Linked DNA regions of Homo sapiens. The protein of the gene in region 1 interacts with the protein of each later gene in a pairwise test. Each region holds a gene or a part of one and is shown on either strand. Other genes may lie near its edges. The genes, in order: BACE2, DUSP10, RFFL and RHNO1.

What was found.
Region 2: the proteins of BACE2 (region 1) and DUSP10 interact in binary tests that used the Homo sapiens proteins (3 or more experiments, as listed by UniProt).
Region 3: the proteins of BACE2 (region 1) and RFFL interact in binary tests that used the Homo sapiens proteins (3 or more experiments, as listed by UniProt).
Region 4: the proteins of BACE2 (region 1) and RHNO1 interact in binary tests that used the Homo sapiens proteins (3 or more experiments, as listed by UniProt).

Annotation. Positions count from the first base shown.
Region 1 is NC_000021.9:41,241,140-41,248,176, forward strand, and holds part of BACE2 (beta-secretase 2 isoform A preproprotein), read left to right. Parts: intron 1-679; coding exon 680-808; intron 809-2,236; coding exon 2,237-2,371; intron 2,372-4,822; coding exon 4,823-4,924; intron 4,925-7,037. UniProt on the Homo sapiens protein: Responsible for the proteolytic processing of the amyloid precursor protein (APP).
Region 2 is NC_000001.11:221,704,072-221,711,108, reverse strand, and holds part of DUSP10 (dual specificity protein phosphatase 10), read left to right. Parts: intron 1-4,642; coding exon 4,643-5,014; intron 5,015-7,037. UniProt on the Homo sapiens protein: Protein phosphatase involved in the inactivation of MAP kinases. Has a specificity for the MAPK11/MAPK12/MAPK13/MAPK14 subfamily. It preferably dephosphorylates p38.
Region 3 is NC_000017.11:35,060,679-35,068,598, forward strand, and holds the start of RFFL (E3 ubiquitin-protein ligase rififylin), read right to left. Parts: upstream 3,030-7,920; 5' UTR 2,898-3,029; intron 1-2,897.
Region 4 is NC_000012.12:2,887,197-2,890,035, forward strand, and holds the end of RHNO1 (RAD9, HUS1, RAD1-interacting nuclear orphan protein 1), read left to right. Parts: intron 1-714; coding exon 715-1,263; 3' UTR 1,264-2,328; downstream 2,329-2,839. UniProt on the Homo sapiens protein: Involved in microhomology-mediated end-joining (MMEJ) DNA repair by promoting recruitment of polymerase theta (POLQ) to DNA damage sites during mitosis.

The DNA.
Region 1 (7,037 bases):
GAGTCTCTCTGGAGAAATGAGGGCATCCTCTGTATGTCTTGCTGGATGTGAGGGAGACACAGAGCACACGAGGGCTTCTGAAATCTGGCCTTGGGGGAATAAGAAGCCTTTTATGCTTCTGGAGTATAGATTTGTGCCTTTCCTGCTTCTTTCCTGCCAGAGTTCATCTGGCAGAGCTAAGCCTCACCCCAGGCTCTGGGGTCCGGGGGATACTGTCCTCCCAGGTCAGCCACCTCTCATTTGCATGGTGGACAGCTGCGGCTGACAGGCAAACAAAGATGTCTGCGGCCATGGCAGCTCCTAGAGAAACTCTTCTCTCCTTACTCTCAAATGCCTAAGATTAGGATCCACCACCTGCCACGGTAACCTACTTCCACGGCTTCTCACACCCCCTCACAAGGCAGTCATGATGATAGATGTGACTGCGTCGAATGGCTTCCAGAAATATGATCTTATTTGTACAACAGAGCCGTGCCCAAAGGAAGAATGCCAACCAGTGGGAAGCTCTGCTGGGGCTTTCTGAATTCCTAGACCCAATCACAAGCTGGTGTACTGTTGAACCATGAAAAAATTGAGTATAAACACCAGGAATGTCTGTGGCGCGTGGCGTCTACACTGGGTGACCCATGTCTACACTGTGAGTCCTAAGCGGGTGCCCCTCTCTGTCGCCCTCCCGCAGCCATCAAGTTCTCTGGAGACCTTCTTCGACTCCCTGGTGACACAAGCAAACATCCCCAACGTTTTCTCCATGCAGATGTGTGGAGCCGGCTTGCCCGTTGCTGGATCTGGGACCAACGGAGGTAGTCTTGTGGGTATCTTTTAGTCTTAAAGGGGCGAAAAATCACAGATGGATGGGCTGTTTTTTTCTGTTTTATTAAACACCTGAGCAGAAATATTAGGCATGTAGGTGTGCGTAGGTACTGTAAAACTTTCATCCTCCTTGTAGTAGATCTTTTTAGAAATGGCTAAAATTAGGCAATCCTTTATGTCATCCTGCCATCTGGAAGGATGATTCTCATCGCTTCTCCGAATTCCATTAAAACTTTTCTTTACCGCCCTTGGAAGGGCACTGCTTTCTGTGGGTGGGGGAGGGACAAGTGAGGAGCGGTGGGGGGCGTGGTGAGTGGACCTGACTGTGGGTAGGGGGCCAAAGGAGAGTTCATAAATTTGGCAGGGAAACAGGGGCCCTTGTAGATCCTTTCTCTCTCTCTCTCTCTCAACACACACAGGCACACACGCACCACAGCACAAGTGTTTGCTGCTGAAACAGAATCAAGGCCGTCAGCACTACGGAGGTGCTGGAGCCTGAGCTTCCCTCCAGGGGCCGGCACCCAGACGTCAAAAGTAGTAGGGGACAGGAAGAATGCACTAGAAGGGGGTGCTGCCAGTCCCTTTGCTGTCTGACTATGAGAGGCAGGATCTGCACCCCGGTCCTCAGCTACTTTCATTTGCTACCATTTCCAGGCAGAGGACAGCATAGGATTTATGAGGAAATGTTTTATGATTTTGCACAATGAAGCTTTGATCAGGGAAGTGCTTGATCTTCTGTTCTCTGACCTCCAAGGAACTAAATAATTGTCAGTCAGTGTGGTTAACTGTTTTATTGCATTTCTTTGAAGGAAAAATCTCAATATTGTAAAGCTAAACTTGTATGTACTTTCTTTGGATAAGAGAAACCTCCAAAGCATCTTGATTAGATGAGGGCCTAATACCATCTGACCTTTGCAGACGTGGACCCATAAAATTCCTTGTTTTATTTTATTTTATTTTATTTCATTTATTATTATTTTTTTTAGATGGAGTCTCGCTCTGTCGCCCAGGCTGGAGTGCAGTGACGCGATCTCAGCTCACTGCAGCCTCCGCCTCCCTGTTCAAGCGATTCTCCTGCCTCAGCCTCCTGAGAAGCTGGGACTACAGGTGCGCGCCACCTTGCCCGGCTAATTTTTGTATTTTTAGTAGAGATGGGGTTTCACCATGCTAGCCAGGCCGTTCTCGAACTCCTGACTTCATGATCCGCCCACCTCAGCCTCCCAAAGTGCTGGGATTACAAGCGTGAGCCACCGCGCCTGGCTCCTTGTTTATTTTTTAAGCATTGATATTTGTTTCATGACATTGTCACGAAGTAGAAGCCCTGATTGCAGTGAAGTTTCTCTTTACAAGTGCATGCTTCTCTGTGTAACCTGTTGATATGTCTGTGTATTTTTTCTCTTATACCTGTAAATATTTCCTGTCCCAGGTCTTGGGTGGAATTGAACCAAGTTTGTATAAAGGAGACATCTGGTATACCCCTATTAAGGAAGAGTGGTACTACCAGATAGAAATTCTGAAATTGGAAATTGGAGGCCAAAGCCTTAATCTGGACTGCAGAGAGGTATTTATGCTATGGTCTCTGTTGTGTCTTTCTGTGTATGTCTGGGTCCCTTAAATATGCCAGCTGGAACCCGTAGATGCCAATAGAAGGTACATTACCTCGTAAGATAAAGGCTCATTACATGAAAAGATGCAGGGCCTTGCTGTACAGTAAGTTGAAATCAATTAATTGTCCTCCCTCCCCACCCCAAATATTGCATCCTCCCAACCACTTATCTTCATAGGGCAAAATTACCATTAAATGGTGAGTGAAGAGGACTATCTGAGCTACACCTTTCACCATTCATTCATCTTGGATTGATGGTCCCTAAGCTCAGTTTAAGAGGTTGAAATAAACAGATTTTTAATCAGTGTAGGACAGAGAAGGACGAAAATTAAGCAAAATGAAACCGAAAAGATCATCAGCTTTTATCCTCCATTCACAGCTAGCCTGGCCCCCAGAGTACCCAATTCTCCCTAAAAAACGGTCATGCTGTATAGATGTGTGTGGCTTGGTAGTGCTAAAGTGGCCACATACAGAGCTCTGACACCAAACCTCAGGACCATGTTCATGCCTTCTCACTGAGTTCTGGCTTGTTCGTGACACATTATGACATTATGATTATGATGACTTGTGAGAGCCTCAGTCTTCTATAGCACTTTTAGAATGCTTTATAAAAACCATGGGGATGTCATTATATTCTAACCTGTTAGCACTTCTGTTCGTATTACCCATCACATCCCAACATCAATTCTCATATATGCAGGTACCTCTTGTCACGCGCGTCCATGTAAGGAGACCACAAAACAGGCTTTGTTTGAGCAACAAGGTTTTTATTTCACCTGGGTGCAGGTGGGCTGAGTCTGAAAAGAGAGTCAGTGAAGGGAGACAGGGGTGGGTCCACTTTATAAGATTTGGGTAGGTAGTGGAAAATTACAATCAAAGGGGGTTGTTCTCTGGCTGGCCAGGGTGGGGGTCACAAGGTGCTCAGTGGGAGAGCCTTTGAGCCAGGATGAGCCAGAAGGAATTTCACAAGGTAATGTCATCAGTTAAGGCAGGGACTGGCCATTTTCACTTCTTTTGTGGTGGAATGTCATCAGTTAAGGCAGGAACCGGCCATTTTCACTTCTTTTGTGATTCTTCACTTGCTTCAGGCCATCTGGACGTATAGGTGCAGGTCACAGTCACAGGGGATAAGATGGCAATGGCATAGCTTGGGCTCAGAGGCCTGACACCTCTGAGAAACTAAAGATTATAAAAATGATGGTCGCTTCTATTGCAAATCTGTGTTTATTGTCAAGAGGCACTTATTTGTCAATTAAGAACCCAGTGGTAGAATCGAATGTCCGAATGTAAAACAAAATACAAAACCTCTGTGTGTGTGTGTGTGTGAGTGTGTGTGTATGTGTGTGTGTGTGTATTAGAGAGGAAAAGCCTGTATTTGGAGGTGTGATTCTTAGATTCTAGGTTCTTTCCTGCCCACCCCATATGCACCCACCCCACAAAAGAACAAACAACAAATCCCAGGACATCTTAGCGCAACATTTCAGTTTGCATATTTTACATATTTACTTTTCTTACATATTAAAAAACTGAAAATTTTATGAACACGCTAAGTTAGATTTTAAATTAAGTTTGTTTTTACACTGAAAATAATTTAATATTTGTGAAGAATACTAATACATTGGTATATTTCATTTTCTTAAAATTCTGAACCCCTCTTCCCTTATTTCCTTTTGACCCGATTGGTGTATTGGTCATGTGACTCATGGATTTGCCTTAAGGCAGGAGGATCAGGTCACCCAGGACTCATTCCATCCCTGGGTAGACTTGCCTATGCAGCTGTGCCCGTAGTGGTTGGGGTGGCTCATCTGGTGTTGGCCACTGGTGTCCATTCTCCTCCCTCTGCCACATGAAGAACATTGCAGGTGAGGACAGGGCTGGCAGCGCCTGTGTGTGTCTCAGTCTATGATGCACTGTGGCCCTGGTTCTGTTCCCAGTGCAAATATGGGATGTCTGTTGAAAAATTGTCCATCCTTCTCTTCGTTAGTGAGGTCATAGAGAATTGATTTGTGTACAGTTTGTACAAATGGCTTTTAATATATTTCAGCCTCAAAAGACAAATAGGTCTTCCCTCTGCCCTGGGGCAGGAGTGCAGGTCCTCAATGAAGGAACTTGGGCACCTCTGAGTAAGGAAAGAGCTGTGCCTTGGGAGGGCTATTGATTTGCTAATTTGGGCCGTGTCCCCTCCCTTTCCTGGGTCCATTTCCTTGTCTCTGAAGTGAGCGTGTTGGGTTGGAAGACCCCTGGTTCCCCAGTTCTGAGAACATGAATGAACTACACAGTCCATGATGACTGGTGTGGCTGCCTGGATTTGTGTGTAACAGACAGATGGTGATGGCGGCTAGAGCCACGTGGGGCGGGGAGCGCCACTGTCACTCACGCACCTTTCCCTTTCTCTCCCGGTTCAAGTATAACGCAGACAAGGCCATCGTGGACAGTGGCACCACGCTGCTGCGCCTGCCCCAGAAGGTGTTTGATGCGGTGGTGGAAGCTGTGGCCCGCGCATCTCTGGTGAGTCCTCGGGACACTCACGGGTCCCCGAGTTGCTGAGTTACAGTCACCTGCTGAGGAGCAGCACTGCGTGTTCTGAGCATCTCTGAACTATTGCGCCATGTATTTCCAATTTTCATATTGTGTATTTGTATATTTTATATGTAATAGTATAGGTGTAATATGTAAATATATTTTATATGTATTTAAAATCTTTATATTTTGAAGGGTTTTGTTTCAACTATTACTTGTTAATTTCACAGTCCCTTTCTTTGATGTTAGCAAATAGTACCTTCATGAACCTCAGAGGACTTGGATCTGAATGTGCAATGCCCTCTAGTATTTCAAATAATAGTTCAGTTGGTATAGTATTTTTTTAATCTGCAAAAAACAATACTTGCTAATATAGCTATGTTAGAGTAAACAATAAATCGAGAATAAATTTATAGCCTTTGAAACAAAACAAACCAAAAATTTTACTCCTTTTTGGCTTTCATCCCTGCACTGGTATCTTAACTTCTGTTTGTATAAAAGAATACCATTTTTTCACAGAAGACAAAGAACAATCAGCCAATCTAATAATTATTTTATGGCCATGCTCTGAAATACAATTAAAATTATGATTGTGGACAATATGCCTTTTCGGGACCTGGCTGATGGTATTTCTGGTGTGACCCCAACTTTCCAGTCAGTTCAGGGCAATAAACATTGGATACAGGACAGCTTTGGGGATGAAATAGAATTAAATTTAGTGTAGTTTTTGCCACTTTTAGCTGGATGCCTGGCGAGGGGTTTTGTGCCCTCTGAGAGCCTCCGTCTTCTCAACTGAGGGGTGGTTGTGAGTTTTGGGTCAAATGCTTGGTGTTTAGTAGATGCTTGGAGCTTCCATGAAACATGCAACCACGGCGTTGCTGCTATTTGTTCAGATGCGAGAGGAACATGACTTTTGGCTGCCTGAGTGTTCTCATAGCATCTGGGCCTTCCTTGTGAGATCGTCAGAAAGTGTTTCCTGCACAAAGCCTGTACTGCGGCCCTGGCGTGGGGCTGATTGTCCCGCTACTCTGCTGTGATGGCTGAATTCAAAGAGTGGCCGATAGGAGCACGTATGGTGGGTGCCTTGTTAACAGCTCATAGCAGAAACGTGACAAGCGGGAGAGGGCTTTGGGTTGTCCTGAACTTCAAACACCTGTAACTGCTGCGGGAAGAGCGGCACGTGGATGAAACGGACACAGAGGGGGAATAGGCAGGAAAGGACGCGGGCTCTTTTCGAAGCAGCAGGTCTCAAGGCGGCCAGCCACTGGCGCAGCTGCAGCTGAAGCCACGGCAGAGTCTCCATCCTTCCCACTATCTGCTGAATCAGAGAAAGTGGCAGGCAACATTTTTAGTGCCTTAAATTTAGAACGCTTGCTCAAAATCAGACCCTACTTAAAATAAGGAGCGATACCCTCATTTCTTAAATAGTAAAAATGCCCTCAGCAGAATTAACGGGAGTATCTTCCAACTTCATATCCTGAATGGAAAAGTCTGTCCACCATCCCGAGGACGTGTTTGAAGCGCAGTGTGAAAATCCAGCACGTCGTGGACCGGCCAGACCCCTGTGCCGTGAGAGGCGGGGCGGCGGGGCCGTGGGGCGCTCGCACTCCCGAGCTCATCGTGGCATGCGCTGAGCCGAAAACCACGAGGTAGAGGGAATGAGATCACAACATTTGTTTGCGTTGTCTAAAATTATCCTCTGATTTCATTCGGTGCCTGCGTCAGGAGGGAGAAACATGGGAAGGTTGTTTGTCTTGGGCAGGGAAAGCATCACAAGGGCGCGTTGTGTGTCTGGCTTACCGTCTCTGGACCAAAGCTGTGTTTGTTTTTCTTATCTACCAGTTCCAGTAAGCCAAACCTCTTGGCGTGGGTTTCCTTCTGGTTAAGGGGAGGGCTGGCTTCAGAGAGTGAAAGACAATAAAAACGTGGAGCTCTGTCCCCTGGCATGGATTGTTCAGATGGGATTCTAGAAATTAAGGGTTTGGAGTTCTGTATTTAGAAATGAACCTGGAGCGGGGAGTGTTGTACAAGGTGCAGCCCATGCAGAGGCACCGAGACCTGGGCTCGTTCCGACCCTGCCGCAGTGCCCGCTTGGCTCAGG
Region 2 (7,037 bases), on another chromosome or scaffold:
TGTTAGAAGAAACTGGCAGGCAGTATTTCCACATATAGTTCTTTAGGGGTGCTAGGTATTCTTTGTTGCTGCCATTTAGAATCAATGTACTGACCATACTCATTTTGGCAGAGAACCTACTTTTGACATAAGCTTTGAAAATGTTTGCTGCCCCCCCACCCCGCCTTGCCTCACCCTACCCCAGCATTGTTGCTCATGGCTACAATATGTTCGCACTAATAACTGCAGGCTCTTGTGCACATAAGGAAGTTAGCCACCTTGGTAGAAATTAGAGGAAAGGAAGAAGGAGGGAAGAACAGTTTTATTTTCAAAATCCAATTCTGTGGAAAAACCAGAAATGCAAAGACAGTGTTTGTTAGGAAAGCTAGGACCAACAAAGTGAAATCAGATATATTTGTTTAGGAAAAATAGGGAGCTGTTGCTTTCTTTATGTTAAAAGTATGTTTTGCAAACTTTAAAACTGCTCGGATACCTTGGTTCCTAATTCTTTTTTGTTAAATAAAATTTTAAAAGTAAAAACTCAGGAACATTAGTTTACTTATATAGAGTCTTTATATTAAGCAGATTTTTTTTTTTTTAGATCTTTAAAATGGTAGTTTCCCAAAGTGATGAAAAGAAAAAGCACTTACAATGTGCTGGACATTGTTTTAAGGTACTTTATTAACCACTTTAATCATTACAACAGTACAGTGAGGTAGGTACTATTGTTATCCCTGTTTTGTATACAGGGAAACTGAGGAACAGACAGGTGAGAAACCTGCCCAGGGTCTCATAGCTAGTGTTTGGCTGTGCTGGGGATTCAAACCCAAGAAGTCCAGCCTCAATACTCCTTCTCTGAATCACTGCACTGCACTTAGGGCTCTCATGGACTATGCGTGTGCATAGATCTGTTGGAATTTAGAACAAAGGTGATGATATTGGGGGTAATAAGACATTATTTATCGAATACCTGGTCGTGTATCAAAACCTTTACATAGGCTTCCTGAACTATGACCCTGATGGGTAGATGATATTACATCCACTTAATAGATTGGTAAACTGAGGCTTAATGAGGGAACCTGACTTGCACAGGGTCTCACAGCTGCTAGGAGGCAGAATCATAACTGCAGCTAGGTGTGGTTTGTCTCTGACCTTTGCTCTTAACCTCCATGCTACACTGCTCCTGCTTTGTTTGTTAATTATCATGTTCTAATATTCTTAAATAGTAATAAACATAACATCATCAGGGTTCCTCATTAAGTGATCAGTCACTTTGGCCTCTGGTGATACTTGATGGGGTAGGGTCGGAGGAAAGTAACTGGAAAAGAAAAACCAGATTAGCTTTACTCTTCCCCCTCCCCTCCAGATTTCAATTTCAACCCTTCCCCAAGAGAAGAAAACAATCCTTCCTGCAGACTTCTCTGGAAAAAGCCACCACTGTGAGCTTCCACTCGTTGTTTTTTACTTTAAGCACCGTCCACAGAGAGAGTTTTTAACTGCAGTACAGAGCTGTGCATAAGCCTTATGGAAAACTGATGCCCAAGTTGATTAGCAGAGTGGCAGTTGAACAGGAGACTATTTCTTCAGACCCCTCAAGGAGAATTTCCTTGTTTACCTTATATGTTTAAATTGTAATATCTCCTTTTCTCTCCACCCCCACCCCTCCCACCTCCAAATATTATAAGAACAGAGTTCCTACATGGCTTAAACATACAATGCACCCATACTTTTGCACATAAGCATGCTCTGTGATTTGGAGCATTCTGTGTGTCTGTCTCAAATTCCCTCCTCCCCCCACTCCGCCACGGGTTTTTTTCCCCCCATTAGGCAAATGGAAGGCCCATGCCACCTGTTAGCATTACATCATTGGCTCCCCAGAACACAGTTGCACCAAAGGCCTTAAACAAAGTAGTTCTTCTTGTATTGTTTGCACTCAAAGAGCTGATATCATGCCAACTGATGTCATTGTATGTCTTTGTGTAACTGCTATGGCAACTGGGCAGGTGGGGAGCCTCCAGCTGATGTCATTGAGAAAGGAGGTGTAGAGGCAGAATTTTAAAAAGCTGGACGCTGCTTTTTTCTGTGTGTGGGGTTTTCTAGCATGTGTTGGTTTTTTTTTTTTTTTTTAAACTAGCTGCTTTTAAGACAAATTACAGCTTGAGTACCCTAAATAAGAACAGAGAGGTTTTTCCCCTGCTTTTAGAGCCTTCTTTTGAATTTGTTTTATTGTTCTTCCCTCTCATCTTATATGGAAAAATGTAACAACTGCCTTTTTTGAAGAAAAAAGTGAATTAGGTTCCCATCACAGAATCTGTGTGGAATTTGGGTTTTTGTGGAGGCGAAGCTGAGCAGATTTTAACTCTTCAGAATCCCTTTTGTGGAGGCTGTGATGATGACAATGGGTAGTTTTTATCTTATTTATTTTTTAAGTCTTCACTGGTGAAGTTATTTTCCATATTTTCTTTCTTCTACTTCAGAATTATCTCTTCAGGTTCAAACTTTATTGTCATAATTGCCTAGCAGAATAAACTATCATATGTAAGGGCAGAGGTTAATTCTAGAAATCAACTGAAATTCGTATATAGCTCTTGTTTTTCTTTTCAAAAAGCTAGGGTAGGTTTTGACTTCTTACTTTCAATGAGTAAAGTGAACATAATATTGCCCTTTGAGTTTTCTTTGGATCATAACCATACCTTAAGGAAAATATGATTTCTCTCTTTTACACAGCCAGCTCCGGGTCCATTGGTTGTGAAAAGTCATGAGACTCGGTCTAGGTTATGGTCTGGAGTTTCCCGCTGTGGTTTGTCAAAGATGAGACTTGAAATGGAGAAGAACATATGCCAGGCTCAGAGGCTAGTGGACAGATAGACTTCCTGTCCTTATTGCAACATAACCGTCTCTTGTTCATGCTTTGGGTTTTCTGCCTTATCTCCTGGAACTATCAAGACAGCCACAAGCCATCTGTCTTTGAGGGTAGATGTTGTGTTCTGGTGGCTTTCAGCTAATAGGACTTTTCCACTTCCCCCTCTTTTCAAAGGGAAAGCCAGAGTGTATCTAGTTCTGTTTGAGTAGGGTTAGAGCTCAGTTGGCACTAATAATGTCAATCCAGATTTTATAGCACTTACATGTATATTATTATAATTTGAGCTTTGTAATAATCCTTTGGGTTTATCTGTGCATGCCATTGTGTGTAAAAATATTAGCAGAAAATTTAAACAATAAACTATGATCCGTAAATTCCCTAATTTAAACAATTGTTCGTTTTTTGTACAGTTCTTCAGCTTTTGGTCAATGTTTTTTACTTAGCTTTTAAAAAATTTAATATTAAACCAAAATGTTTTATTTATTTTCACATCCTTTTTGCAACTACTCTTTTAAAGGCTACATAATACTCCGTGGAATGAATGTAATAACTTTTTTTCTTTTATTTTTGTGTTTTACTTGGCCTTTTTAAAATATATATAAAACAGATAACATTGTAGTGAACATCTCCATATATCTAGCTAACTATCTTTGGTTAGATGATTTCCCTAAGATCCATTCCCAAAAGTGAGATTGCACTTGTTCAGGGGAAGGTTTGCATTTTAAAAATGGAGAAATAAGCACAGTTTATAAGCTTTTTATACTAGACCCATAACTCGTGGGAGGCAGAGCAGAGCCGTAAGCTCAAAAGCATGCATTCACACATCCAAAAGAGGTTTCTTGATGGGTTTATGTGCCCACAAGCCTTGGAAAGTCGAGGAGTAAGCAACCGCGCTGCTCTCACATTCTGTTCTACTGAAAGTCAGGGTTGATAAATGTCAGGGCCCTACGTGGAGAATATCAAAAAAGATTATAAGAGCAGTCCTTCACACCCCACCCTGGCTTGTCTTTTCCAAGTACTTCTCTGCTGATTTCACCTGTGGGCAATCATATAAATAATATAAATTAAAATAGTGAATGCCTGCTGAGTTCTACTGTGTGCCAGGAGATGTGCTAAGTATTTTACACGTATTCATTTATCTCAGGCTCACAATTGCACTCAAAGGGAGACACCATCACCCTCAGTTTACAGATGGTGGAACTGAAGCACAGAGATAAATGAACTTAAGTAATAGTGTCAGGAAATGATGGTACCCAGATTATAATCAAGATAACCTGTCTCTTCCAATGTTCCTGCTTGTAACCACTCTGCTGTATTGGGAGCAAACTTGTCCCTCTGGGTGAGGTGAGCTATGAAGGGTGCAAGACATGCTCCTGTGGTGCTGAGATTCCACCCGAGGAGGTCATCTGTGCCTTTCTTGGCTCCCAAAGCACAGGGTTCTATGTAGGCCACTGAGCATATGGCTCTTTGAGGCAGGTCACATTTGCAGCTGAGGAAGATTGCCTGATGCCGCGTGGAACTCTTGCTAGGGGAACATGCCCTCATTTGTAGAAAGAGCACATTTCCAAAGTGTTCCATGCAGTGATACTCCCCGAAGCTTGTCTTGGGTCTCCAAATGGACTTTTAGTTTTTGTTTTGTTTTGTTTTATTTTTATTTTTATTTTTTTTGCTTAAATACATATTTATATATGTATTTAAAATATGCATGAGCTACAATGCAAACTCATTCTAATGGGGAGGTGGCATTCTCTGCCAGCTCTGAAATCTCAGTCACACTCACCTTCTGTGTTTGTGTTCTAGGTGGACTTAGTAGTTTTAAGCAGAACCATGAAAACCTCTGTGACAACTCCCTCCAGCTCCAAGAGTGCCGGGAGGTGGGGGGCGGCGCATCCGCGGCCTCGAGCTTGCTACCTCAGCCCATCCCCACCACCCCTGACATCGAGAACGCTGAGCTCACCCCCATCTTGCCCTTCCTGTTCCTTGGCAATGAGCAGGATGCTCAGGACCTGGACACCATGCAGCGGCTGAACATCGGCTACGTCATCAACGTCACCACTCATCTTCCCCTCTACCACTATGAGAAAGGCCTGTTCAACTACAAGCGGCTGCCAGCCACTGACAGCAACAAGCAGAACCTGCGGCAGTACTTTGAAGAGGCTTTTGAGTTCATTGGTAACTATCTCCCATAGGGAATTTTCATCCGCTGCCTTCCTTTTCCCTCCAGCTCTTGCTTTGATATCAAGTTCAAGGTTTATTCCTGTGTTGGAAAAGAAAAGCTGCCCTGGAGTTTTGGAGGGCTCTGCCACCTGAAACAGCCTAAGCATTCTCCTAAGTCATAGCCTGTCGAGTGTATCCAAGCCATCAGGATGGATATAAAAGGACAGTAATTGAATTTGTTGGGATCTGTTCAACTAGAAATCCTCATCCCTCAAGTTCTCAGTGAAATAGTGGTAGGGGTTAGCATTTATGTGCTCTGTAACCAGAAAAGTGGATGGAAAGTAAGGAATCGGAGGTCAGAGCTGGTGCTACTGCTACTTGATCTACTAGCGCCGTTGAGCACCTTGGAAGCAATATCTAGTGAATATGACACCCCTTCCAAACATACCTATGCCTTCCGGTCACCCTACTAAGCCTTATTCATCCAGCATAAGGGGAGATGGTACTAGGTTTCCTTTGACAGTCTGCCCCAAACTCATTGAACTAGGAAAGATCAGGTTGTGTAGACGGAGTAGTTCCCAAGGAGGAAGTTTTAGCAACAGCACGCTTTGATCCCCAGAAGGAAGCAACTATTAGCCTAATCCTAATCTTAATTTCTGCAACTTCTATAGCCCCAAACTGCTATAAGACTCAAAATATCGCCGGGCGCGGTGGCTCATGCCTGTAATCCCAGCACATTGGGAGGCCGAGGCGGGTGGATCACCTGAGGTCAGGAGTTTGAGACCAGCCTGACCAACATGGAGAAACTCCATCTCTACTAAAAAAATACAAAATTAGCCAGGCGTGGTGGTGCATGCCTGTAATCCCAGCTACTCAGGAGGCTGAGGCAGGAGAATCGCTTGAGCCTGGGAAGCGGAGGTTGCAGTGAGCTGAGATCACGCCACTGCACTCCAGCCTGGGCAACAACAGTGAAACTCTGTCTCAAAAAAAAAAAAAAACACTCAAAATATCATTTTGGGAGCACCTGCAATATAGCAAAACTCAACATTTATTTTTTTTTACGTAACTTCAACTTTTATTACCATAAAGGGGTGGCCTAGTACTTTTCCTAAATATTACAGCAGGTTGTTATTCCAGGAAGAATACAGTTAAGTGGAGTGGGGTGTTCCTTTGTCAGAGAAAGAAAAAAACAGCCTCAGGTTTAACAGCCAGTGGGGTCTGGTGGATTTGCTGTAGTGTTGACATCTCTGGTCATTTTGCCAAGCTGTTTTCCTTGCTAATTATGCCGTCAGCACAGGACCATGGAATATTGAGTCTGAAAGGAAATTCAGGGTGATCACTGAACTTAGAGAAGTAAAGTGACTTCTTCAAGGTCATAGGAATTCTAGTGTCCAAGAAGGGGCCAGAATCCAGGGTTTTTGACTCCCAAGCCTGAGGCCTTTTCACAACACACTAAGGCAATGTTTATGATGCCCTATTAAGTAATTCCCAACTGGCAACACTGAGGATGCAGAGATACTGCAGATTCTTTATTAATAAAATCTGAGCCAAACCTGGAGCGCTGAGGAAGAAAAATTTCTCAACAAGCATATGAGGAACTTCTGGTTGATACATGATGTGATGTTATGACTGAGATTCCATCTGACTTAACTCCAGTTGGAGGAAGTTAGGAAATTGTTTTCTATTTAATGAGTAGGGTAAGATATACTTGTTCTAAGAGGATTTCAACTAAAGCTCCTTCTCACATTCCTTATAGATTATTCAGGCTTACCTGCCTTTTTTTTTTTTTTTTTAAGGAAAACAAAACCAATAACAAATAGCATTCAGCCCGAAGAACAACTCCATATCACAACCTGCATAGGCACAATTTTATTTTCATTGTTATATTATTGGATAAACTGAAATCTTACAGTCTTGCTTTAGTAAAAACACAGCAGGTTTTATAAACATAATAGCTTTCACTGAGAGTGTAATATAAGCTGAGCAGCATCTAAGTTTAGTGTTTATACCAGTTTATTTATTCCTGAATCAAGTGTGT
Region 3 (7,920 bases), on another chromosome or scaffold:
ACACATACAAAATAAGCAGCCATGGGCTCATGTTCATCAAATAGGAATGAAAAACCATGCCATCTAACAAAAAAGCTTCTAATATTGCAAAGAATAACGGTTTGAGCCCGGAGATCCACGTCAGCCACTCTCTCTGATGGTGCCAAGCTCTAGTCCAGGGACACCAAGTTCAGTCAAAGAACTCAACAGTCTAGTGGAAGAGACAGACAGTGCTGTCTGTCAGAAAAGACAGAGAAGTCAGAGAAGATGCATATATGAACTAAGTGTCCTGAGGGATGAGTATCTTGCCAGTTAGAGAAGGGAGAGTCCATTGGGAAAAGGCAGAGTCCTAAAAGACATGGTATATCCATGGAATGTTAACATGAGAAGTTCAGTGAAGCTGGAGAGGAGAGAAATGGCCAGGGGAGAGGGAGATGAGATGGTTAACAGCAACATGTAGGAAAGAATCCAACTGTGAAAGCTTTTAGAAGTCAAGCTAAGTGGAAAACAGGGAACAAATGGCACCTTAAATGAAAAGATTAGATGTGGACTTTAAAAAGATAACTTGGGCAACAATATGGAGAAGATAGGAGCAAGGAAAGACTTATGGAGGAGTGGCCATTTGATAAGGGTCTGAACTAGGAGTTACAAACTCAAATTCCTAGAGGCAATGCAGGTAAAATGCTAAGTCTTCAGTGTGTAAGATGTCAGAAAATGGTGGTATCCGTAATCTTTGAAGAGTACAGGCCTTCTCTCTGATGGTGCCTAAAAGTATTCACACACAAAATTTTAAGCCCTTAGGCTGACTGATTGATTTTTGGGATGGAGTCTTCTTCTGTGCCTAGGCTGGAGTTCAGTGGCACAATCTCAGCTCATTGAAACCTCCACCTCCTGGGTGCAAGCAATTCTCTTTTCTCAGCCTGCTGGGTAGCTGGTACCACAGGCACTGGCCACCATGCGTGGCGTGCCTTTTTTTTTTTTTTTAAATACAGACAGGGTTTCACCATGTTGGCCAGGATGGTCTCAAACTCTTTTTTTTTTTTGATATGGAGTCTCACTGTTGCTCAGGCTGGAGTGCAGTGGTGTGATCCTCGCTCACTGCAACCTCCACCTCCTGGGTTCAAGTGATTCTCCTGCTTCAGCATCCTGAGTAACTGGGATTATAGGCACGTGCCACCACGCCCAGCTAATTTTTTGTTTTTAGTAGAGATGGGGTTTCACCATGTTAGCCAGGCTGGTCTCAAACTCCTGACCTCAGGTGATCTGCCCACCTCGGCCTCCCAAAGTGCTGGGATTACAGGCGTGAGCCACCGTGCCCAGCCTGACTTTAAACGTCCAGTTTTGACCTCTGGTAAATTAAGGCAATGACAGTGGGAATGAAGAAAAGCCACACATCAAACAGTACTCCAACAAAATCAACAGGGTTTAGCACATTTAAAGATGTGAGCATAAAAAGAATGAACAAGGCCGGGCGCGGTGGCTCACACCTGTAAACCCAGCACTTTGGGAGGCCAAGGCAGGTGGACCATGAGGTCAAGAGATCGAGACCATCCTCGCCAACATGGTGAAACACTGTCTCTACTAAAAATACAAAAATTAGCTGGGCGTGGTGGCACGTACCTGTAGTCCCAGCAACTCAGGAGGCTAAGGCAGGAGAATCGCTTGAACCAGGAAGGCAGAGGTTGCAGTGAGCTAAGATCACACCACTGCACTGCAGCCTGGGTGACAGAGCAAGATTCCTCTCAGAAGAAAAAAAAAAGAGTTGATGAGAGGATCAGAGTTGAGAAAGTACAGTACAGGCTCTTGCTCATTCTACCCTTACTGAGAACCTACTATGTGCAACGTACCATGGATACAATTCTAGCAAAGCAGACCCTGATTCTCAATACATACTATGATTGGAGTAAATACCAGGTTCTCCTGAGTACTCAACCCTGGTAAGTAAGAAGAGGCTTCATGGAAGAGGTGACTTCTAGGCTGAAACCAGTTGGCCAGATTAAGCTTGGGGAAGGTGTGTAAAAGAACGCTTACATATGCTAAGGTCTGAGGTGAAAGAGAACGTGGGCAATTTGTTGGAATTATAAGGAGCAGAAACGTAATTTGGAGGGTGACGACTACCTAGAGATATCATAGTCTGATTAGGTGAAGGACTCAAAAGTTTGGCGATGAAAAGCAGGAGGGAGATAGAGTAGTAGCCTAGTAGAATTAGAGATGAGGGAGGTTCTTCCTATTAATTCAGAAAGGAATATGGGAACAAACTCACTGATAAGACAGTGTTCTCCACAACTCAATATTTAGTTATTAGGAAGGCAACCAAATGCCTTCACTTCTTTTCCTTTAACAATGGCTTAGTTTGACTAAAGTGTTTCTCACAAGATACACACAAAAAAACAAAATACAAGAGCAAATGACGGATAAAGCTGTAAACCTAACGTTTTACTTTTCTAAGATTTATATAATCAGTGATTTAATTGGACCTAACTCCACATCCAGAACTCAAATGAAAGAAAACTTCTGGCCGGGGGCCGTGGCTCATGCCTATAATTCCAGCACTTTGGGAGGCTGAGGAGGGTGGATCACCTGAGCTTGGGAGTTCGAAACCAGACTGACCAACACAGCAAAACCCTGTCTCTACTAAAAATACAAAATTAGCCGGGCATGGTGGCGCACATCTATAATCCCAGCTACTTGGGAGGCTGAGGCAGGAGAATCACTTGAACCCGGGAGGTGAAGGTTGCAGTGAGCCGAGATCACACCATTGCACTCCAGCTTGGGCAACAAGAGTGAAACTCCGTCTCAAAAAAAAAAAAAAAAAAAAAAAAAAAAAAAACCTGACTCACTTCTGAAGACAGGATTTTCCCAGTTTCTAATGCAGCTTCATCTAGCTAATGAAACTTAAGAAAACAGTTTGAGGTTACCTGATTTTGCCAGTTTCAAAACATTGCCACGACAGAAAGCAAGCTGTCTCTAGTTCCTGTGGCTGAGGTCGCTGGAGCCATGTTCAGATGAGATCATCTCAGGAACCAAGAGCAGCGGCTTTCATGTGAAGTGAATGGTGCCGCCTGGGGATGTATCTTTGGTAAGCAAGATTGCAACACAGCAGGGAGTTTACCCAGGGCAGTGCTGACTCACGCTGGGCAAAATTTGTACTTCCCAAACAACTCAGCCTGAACCAACCGCAGTCAACTGCAACCTAGGAAAGAAGAGGCAGCTCACTGATTGTTTTAAATCAAGTGCTGATTACTGGGGGCAGGTAAACCTCATTCCCCCACTACTGGTAACTTGGCCACCTCCAGAGCCCTTACCCAAAAAGTTCCAGTGGCCAGTTTCTAAAATTTCATCTGAGAACAGGCTGGGGCTGGGGCCAGCAAGATTACTGAACATAGCAGGTTCACAGCTCTGAAGATTTCCCCAGGAGGCTGATAAATAAGTCACTTTGCATTTACAAATTAGAACATCTGGGTCAGTGGACTCAGGGAACTTGCCCAGTCATCATTAGCCAGTCAAATCATTAGGGTGAATTTTTGTCAGTTCTAACCAGGCTCATTGTTCTTTTTTCCCACTAGGCCTCCTCTGACCTCTCTATTTCTTCAGACAACTCAAGTTCTCTCATTAAGATAGATGCACTGGAATTTTTTTTTTTTAATCAGCTGCCACATTCTCTATGCTAAAGCCAAATCATTTACCATCACACCTACTGGATGCATAGGGAATACAGAAGACTATGAAAATCACCTTAACACTTGCTCTGAAAAGAGACATCCCTAAATTTATGTCAATTCTCATTTATTAGCCTGCTTATTTAAAAAATCAATCTAGAATGACTGGCTCATCAACAGCTATTAATTACTGAATTTGCCCTGACAGGCTAGAATTGACATTGGTGTTATACAAAAAAAAAAAAAAAAGATCAAGTCCTTGCTTTTTGTGTGCTTTAATTTGACAAGAGAGAAACTAAAGTTCCTATTAGATCCTTCTGTTTCCTGCTTAAAATGTATGACAGTTCCCCAAGGCCATCAGCTATTTCTTAGCAGGGCATTTGAGGCCTCTGCACCCAGCTTCGTTCATCCTTTAAGGTAGGTCTCACATGGCATGAACTCTGGATGTAGCTGCCAACTCAGCTTGTCATTCAATAATGTTAGGTTAATTAAAATGTACGTGCAGACAGAATTTGAGTTTAAAAACTATACTACTTAATTTTCTATTCAAGGGGCTAGTTTTAAAAAGTTATTTATCCAACTCACTTAATTCTCCTTAATTACATTATTCCAGTAGGATAGCCACGCTGAGCTTTGATAAGGTATTATAAAATGTTCCCTGTTTTATTTCCTCCCCTTCAGTGTTTTCCTTTCAGAAAATGGCTTTGTTTAAAGAAGTTTCCCTATAGTACATGTTAATTAGTCCTTTCTGAATGATAAACACATCTTTATAGCAGCTGACAACCATTATCTCTTCAACCACACTTTAAAAAAAATTTCTGTAGTTGATGATAAGTTACAAATTCTAGTATGAAACAACTCTCAAGGTACAGACAAATATGGAACCTCCTTCAGAAAAAAAAAAAATGATTAGAAAAGCTCCTGACCTGTTCTGTATTTGCGAACTTTAAATAAGAGGGCCGGGCACAGCGGTTCACGCCTATAATTGCAGCACTTTGGAAGGCCGAGGTGGGCGGATCACCTGAGGTCGGGAGTTCAAGACTAGCCTAACCAACATGGAGAAACCCCCATCTCTACTAAAAATACAAAATTAGCCAGGTGTGGTGGCACATGCCTGTAATCCCAGCTACTCGGGAGGCTGAGGCAGGAGAATCGCTTGAACCCGGGAGGCAGAGGTTGCAGTCAGCCAAGATTGTGCCATTGCACTCCAGCCTGGGCAACAACAGAGCAAAACTTCGTCTCAAAAAAAAAAAAAAAAAAAGAAAGAGAAAATCCAGACAGTACTATGCCCAGGAGACAGATACGAACTATATAAAGAGCAGCCTGAAGGCCAAAGGCATGGAACTCCTAAGTTGACTAAGAGAAACACCATTGAGCAAGTGAACAGAGCTGCTGCAGCTTATCATTCCCCTCTTTGGGACTCTGATACAGTTTTAACCAACTGCCCCAAATTATAGCCACACTCCATCCTAGTTCTTCCTTTTAAAGTGGAAAGGTTGAGGATTACATTTTAGAGCTTAAAAAGGTACTCGTTTGAACTAGTGGTTTCAGGCACTTGAGGATTTATGAGGTTACATGAAAATTATGAGAATATGAGGCTATGGGAGAAATAATAACTGTGGCTTTCTGACTAAGTTCTTTCAATACATTATTTTAAAATTAGCCAGGCATGGTGGCATACACCTCTAACCCCAGCTACTCTAGAGGCTGGGGCAGGAGAATCACTTGAACCCAGGAGACAGAGGTTGCAGAGCCGAGATTGCGCCACTGCAATCCAGCCCAGGCGACAGAAGGAGACTCCATCTCAAAACAAAAAACAACAAAAACAGAAAATACGTTATTTTAAAACTCAAGTAACTTAACACCCAAAACTATTTATGCTTTTTTTAATAGGGTGGTCTCAACAGATATTTAATGAGTGTGCATATGTGTATGTGCCCATTGTTTCATTTGAACAGACATATGTGATGTCATTGACATCCCAGATTTACTTTCTTTTCTGCAATAGATCTTGACATTATAAACAATAAGCAGGTTTCAAAAGAGAAATTAAAATATCCATTTCTCAGGATTCTGTAGTCTTCCAAATCCACAGAAAATTACCAAATACATACAGAAGATCTGGGAGGATGCACACAGCAGGGAGAGCACTGTAATGGGAATAAAGATCAAATAGCTATGTTTAGCTTTATCCAAATTACCCCCCAAAAATCATGAATTTTTTTACAACAAGCATATATTCAAATATGACTTGGTAGTTTAAAATTCAGTTAAAATTTTAAAGTTTGTATCACTTACAAACTGCTTTACTCTCTCTTCACACTCTTTCCTCTCAACATCTCCCTTTTATCTACTTCCCTACCCCCAGCATCCTAAATGATACTGCACATTTCTTGTTTTTAACAAAATTAATCTTACTTGTGTCCACATCCTTTTTCTAACTGAGAAGTCGGTGAATGGATAAATGCACATTTCCAGGAATCAGTGCCTGTCTCACCTTGTTGATAATTAATGATTGCCAAATTCTAATCTTGGTGTTCAGTGACCTCACAGCCTTTTTTTTTTTTTAACTATAGAACATAGTATTTAAGAAAAACAATATGATGGCAACCAAATATTTATCATCTAATAAATCACAGAAATTAAACATGAAAAATGAAGTAAACTTTATGATACTCAACAATTAACTCTAGGGGTACTTAAGAATCAACAGGGGTGCTTATTGAAAATGAACATTTCTCATCCCAGTCCCTCAGACACTCTGAATTAGCAGACATGGAGGGAGGCCCCAGAAACTGAATTTTTTTTTTTTTTTTTTGAGACGGAATCTCACTCTCATCGCACAGGCTGGAGTGCAATGGTGCAATCTCAGCTCACTGCAACCTCCACCTCCTGGGTTCAAGCAATTCTCCTTCCTCAGCCTCCCAAGTAGCTAGGATTATAGGCGTATGCCACCATGTCTGGCTAATTTTTGTATTTTAAGTAGAGACAGAGTTTTGCCATGTTGGCCAGGCTGGTCTCGAACTCCTGACCTCAGGTGATCCACCTGCCTCAGCCTCCCAAAGTGCTAGAATTACAGACGTGAGTCACCATGCCTGGCCAAAACTGAATTTTTAATAAGTATCTCTCTCTTCCAAGCCTTTTTTTTTTTTTTTTTTGAGACAGAGTCTCGCTCTGTCGCCCAGGTTGGAGTGCAGTGGCACAATTTCTCGGCTCACTGCAACCTCCACCTCCGGGTTCAAGCGATTCTCCTGCCTCAGCCTCTCAAGTAGGTGGGATTACTATGCACCACCAGGCCTGGCTAATTTTTGTATTTTTAGTAGAGACGGAGTTTCGCCATGTTGGCCAGGCTGGTCTTGAACTCCTGGCCTCAAGTGATCCGCCCGTCTCAGCCTCCCAAAGTGCTGGGATTATAGGTGTGAGCCACTGCGCCCGGCCTTCCAAGCAATTCTGATACAGATGGGCCTTGGATCATGTTTTGAGAAAAAGGACACAGCTATGTTCCCTAAGCACTGTTTAGAGTAAAATGAAAAAAAGTTTTTTCAAAGACCTCCAAGCTGAACAGTAGTCACACTGAGCAGGTCCTAAACATAAGTCCGCTCACCCACAAGAACCACAAAAAATACAAACTGTATTCACTTTGTTGGTTGGACCATTATTTTCTTCAAGCCTTCAGAGACAATTATCCTAACTACCATTAAGGATTTCACCTGTCACCCACAGTCTTGTTATACTGAGACATTTTCACACCTGGATATGATACAAGGGGCTTAATGGAATTTTTATGGCTAAAAATTAAAGTTCATTTGACTCAACAGAATAGTCAAATAAAACAAAGGAGAAAACCCAAAGGAACAGGTTGAAAGTAGAGGCTTTTGACTTCCTGATGAGCCAATTTTGCCCAGAAATTCAAACCATGGGATGCTATATAGCTCATATGTCTTGAGAGTGCCCAAATGTCAACTTATCGCCAGAGTATCAGCCAGTGCAGGCTTACAGTAACATTTGGAAGCACAAATGTGCTGTATAAAATGGCCTCTCCTGGGAGATAGAGGCTGTCGCCATGGCAGAGATCATTCCATCTTGGGGCCAGAAGGACCAGGCAGTCCCTTTAATCTTTAACAAGCCACTTTCACATTTAGATACAGGAACTGGCACTGCATGAGGCTCAACCTGCTTCACAGCACTTTGCTGCAAAACAACCCCCCAGTTGTGTGAGGGCATGCTAACCCAGTCTGTCCCCACTGGTGCAGTTACCAGAATCTATTCTATAATGCAATTG
Region 4 (2,839 bases), on another chromosome or scaffold:
GCTGGGTGCCGTGACTCATGCCTGTAATCCCAGCACTTTGGAAGGCCGGGGTGGGTGGATCACCTGAGGTCAAGAGTTCAAGGTCAGCCTGGTCAACATGGTAAAATCCTGTCTCTACTAAAAATACAAAAATTAACTGGTCGTGGTGGTGCGCACCTATATTCCCAGCTACACGGGAAGCTTAGGCAGCAGAATCGCTTGCATCAGGGAGTCGGAGGTTGCAGTGAGCAGAGACCTGCCATTGCACTCCAGCCTGGGCGACAAGAGCAAAACTCTGTCTCCAAAAAAAAAAAAAAAAAAAAAATACCTGGGCGTGGTGGCAGGCGCCTGTAGTCCCAGCTACTCGGGAAGCTGAAGCAGGAGAATCACTTGAACTGGGAGACAGAGGTTGCAATGAGCCGAGATGGTGCCGCTGCATTCCAGCCTAGACGTCGGAGTGAGACTCCATCCCAGGGGGAAGAAAAAAAGTTATATCCATATGGTGTGATGAAGTGAAAGAGACATCGTCCCCTTTCCTACACATGAGGAAGCTGAAGGCCGGAGAGATGGAATAATTTGCCCAAAGCTTCCTGTTATTATGCCATTAGACAGTTATTTTAGTTTTGTGTTCATTACTACAGTAGACCCCGATTTAAGAGTCTGGTCATCAGATACAGTTTCCTCTCTTAGGTTAGTACTTAGTTAGGCTCACCTCACTTTTTTTTTTTTTTTAAGGTATCACCTGATTTTGATACAGCAGCAGGAAGCTTGTTCCCAGCCTACCAGAAACACCAAAACCGGGCGAGACACTCAAGTCGAAAACCTACCACCTCCAAGTTTCCACATCTAACTTTTGAGAGTCCGCAATCTTCCAGTTCAGAGACATTGGGGATCCCCTTAATCCGAGAGTGCCCCAGTGAATCAGAAAAGGATGTTTCCAGAAGACCCTTAGTTCCAGTGCTCAGTCCCCAAAGCTGTGGGAACATGTCAGTGCAGGCACTTCAGAGCTTACCTTATGTGTTCATTCCACCTGATATCCAGACCCCAGAGTCATCGTCTGTGAAGGAAGAACTCATTCCCCAAGATCAGAAGGAAAACAGCCTTCTAAGCTGCACTCTTCACACTGGCACTCCTAATAGCCCAGAGCCTGGACCTGTTCTGGTTAAAGACACCCCCGAGGACAAGTATGGAATAAAGGTCACATGGAGGAGACGACAGCACCTGCTTGCTTACCTCAGGGAGAGAGGGAAGCTGAGCAGAAGCCAATTCCTTGTGAAAAGCTGACTGCCATCAGTAATCTCAATAGAAAAGAGATATGTTTTCTGGAGTCATAAAGGAATTCAATTCCTAGGGTTTTTGTTTTTGTTTTTGAGATGTAATATTGCTCTGTTGCCCAGGCTGGAGTGCAGTGGTATGATCTCACCTTACTGCAACCACCACTTCCTGGGTTCAAGCGATTCTCCTGCCTCAGCCTCCCCAGTAGCTGGGATTACAGGCACCAGCCACCATGCCTGGCTAATTTTTTTGTATTTTTAGTAGAGATGTGGTTTCTCCATGTTGGCCAGGCTGGTCTCAAAATCCTGACCTCAAGTCATCTGCTGGCCTTGACCTCACAAAGTGCTGGCCCAGCCGAGATTTGTTTTCTAAGATACTTTGTGTCATGAACAGTTCAGTTTAGTGTCATGAACTATTCACTTCATATTTTTCTTGTATTAACTGTTTAAATTTTTAAAATATCTTGTAGTAACTCTTTAAAATGTATGTAAGTAAATGGCTGCAGAAAGTTTTTTTAGAGAATCCTGCTTCCATCAGTAATACAGCAATATTACCCCATCCACTAATGGTCTTTGTTTCCTTAACCACTACTCATTAATCCTTAATCACCTCATTCAAACTAATTCATTCTGCATTTTTGAGTACCAACTCTTGTCAGGCTCAGTGGCAGCTTCTACGACCTGATGGATGGAAAAAAATCAAACTCTGTGACTCTATGGTTGACTGCCACCTCTGCAACCTTGACTCATCTGCTGAAAAGGCAAGAAGAAGAAAGGGCAGCAAGCCCTGTTTTAGGGACTACATAAGATGAGGGGAGATAAGGGGGACATAGATGAGTTCTTTAGGATTGCGTGTGTTTTGAGTTTTTGTTTCTAACTGAAGAAATCTGTCAATATTAAATAGGGTGGGAAAATGGTTTCTTAGAATAACTGTTCAACTGTGTGTAAATAAGGAAAGTTTTCAATGAGTATTACTTATTGTAATTAATGCAGAAGGACTTCCCCAGTCAACCGAATGTCTCGGCCTTTTACTCAGACAAGTAGCATCTCATTAAACCCATTCATTTAGCATTCATTCAGCTGGACCTACTGTGTCAGGTCCAGCCCCAACTAGATCAAGCAGGGATTACTGTATATTTTACAGATGGGAGTTTGATGCAGAGAATGAACCATGCACAGGTCACACAGTGAGTGCACGCTGACCCAGGCAGTGTAACGGTCCACTCTCAGCGTGTGCCTCCTAAAGTACTAACTTGTAGGTTCAAAACCAATGTGGAAACAACTTTGACCTTAGAACGCCATAAAGCCATTTGTGCAGTGACTTGTCAGGACTCAGGATGTTTTGTAGGGACTATAATGTGCATGTCGGTAGGGAGAAAGGGACTGACATTTGGGGACGGGATTTATTGGAGACAAGAGTACACATTTAGACAGGGGCTCTCACGGTGGGCTATGGATGTTTGAGGAAGGCCCACAGGAGGTAGAAAGGTAGATGGAAAGAGTCTCCAGGACGGGCCCACGCCTGTAATCCCAGCACTTTCGGAGGCTGAGGCGGGTGGATCATTTGAGGTCGGGAGTTAAGAGGC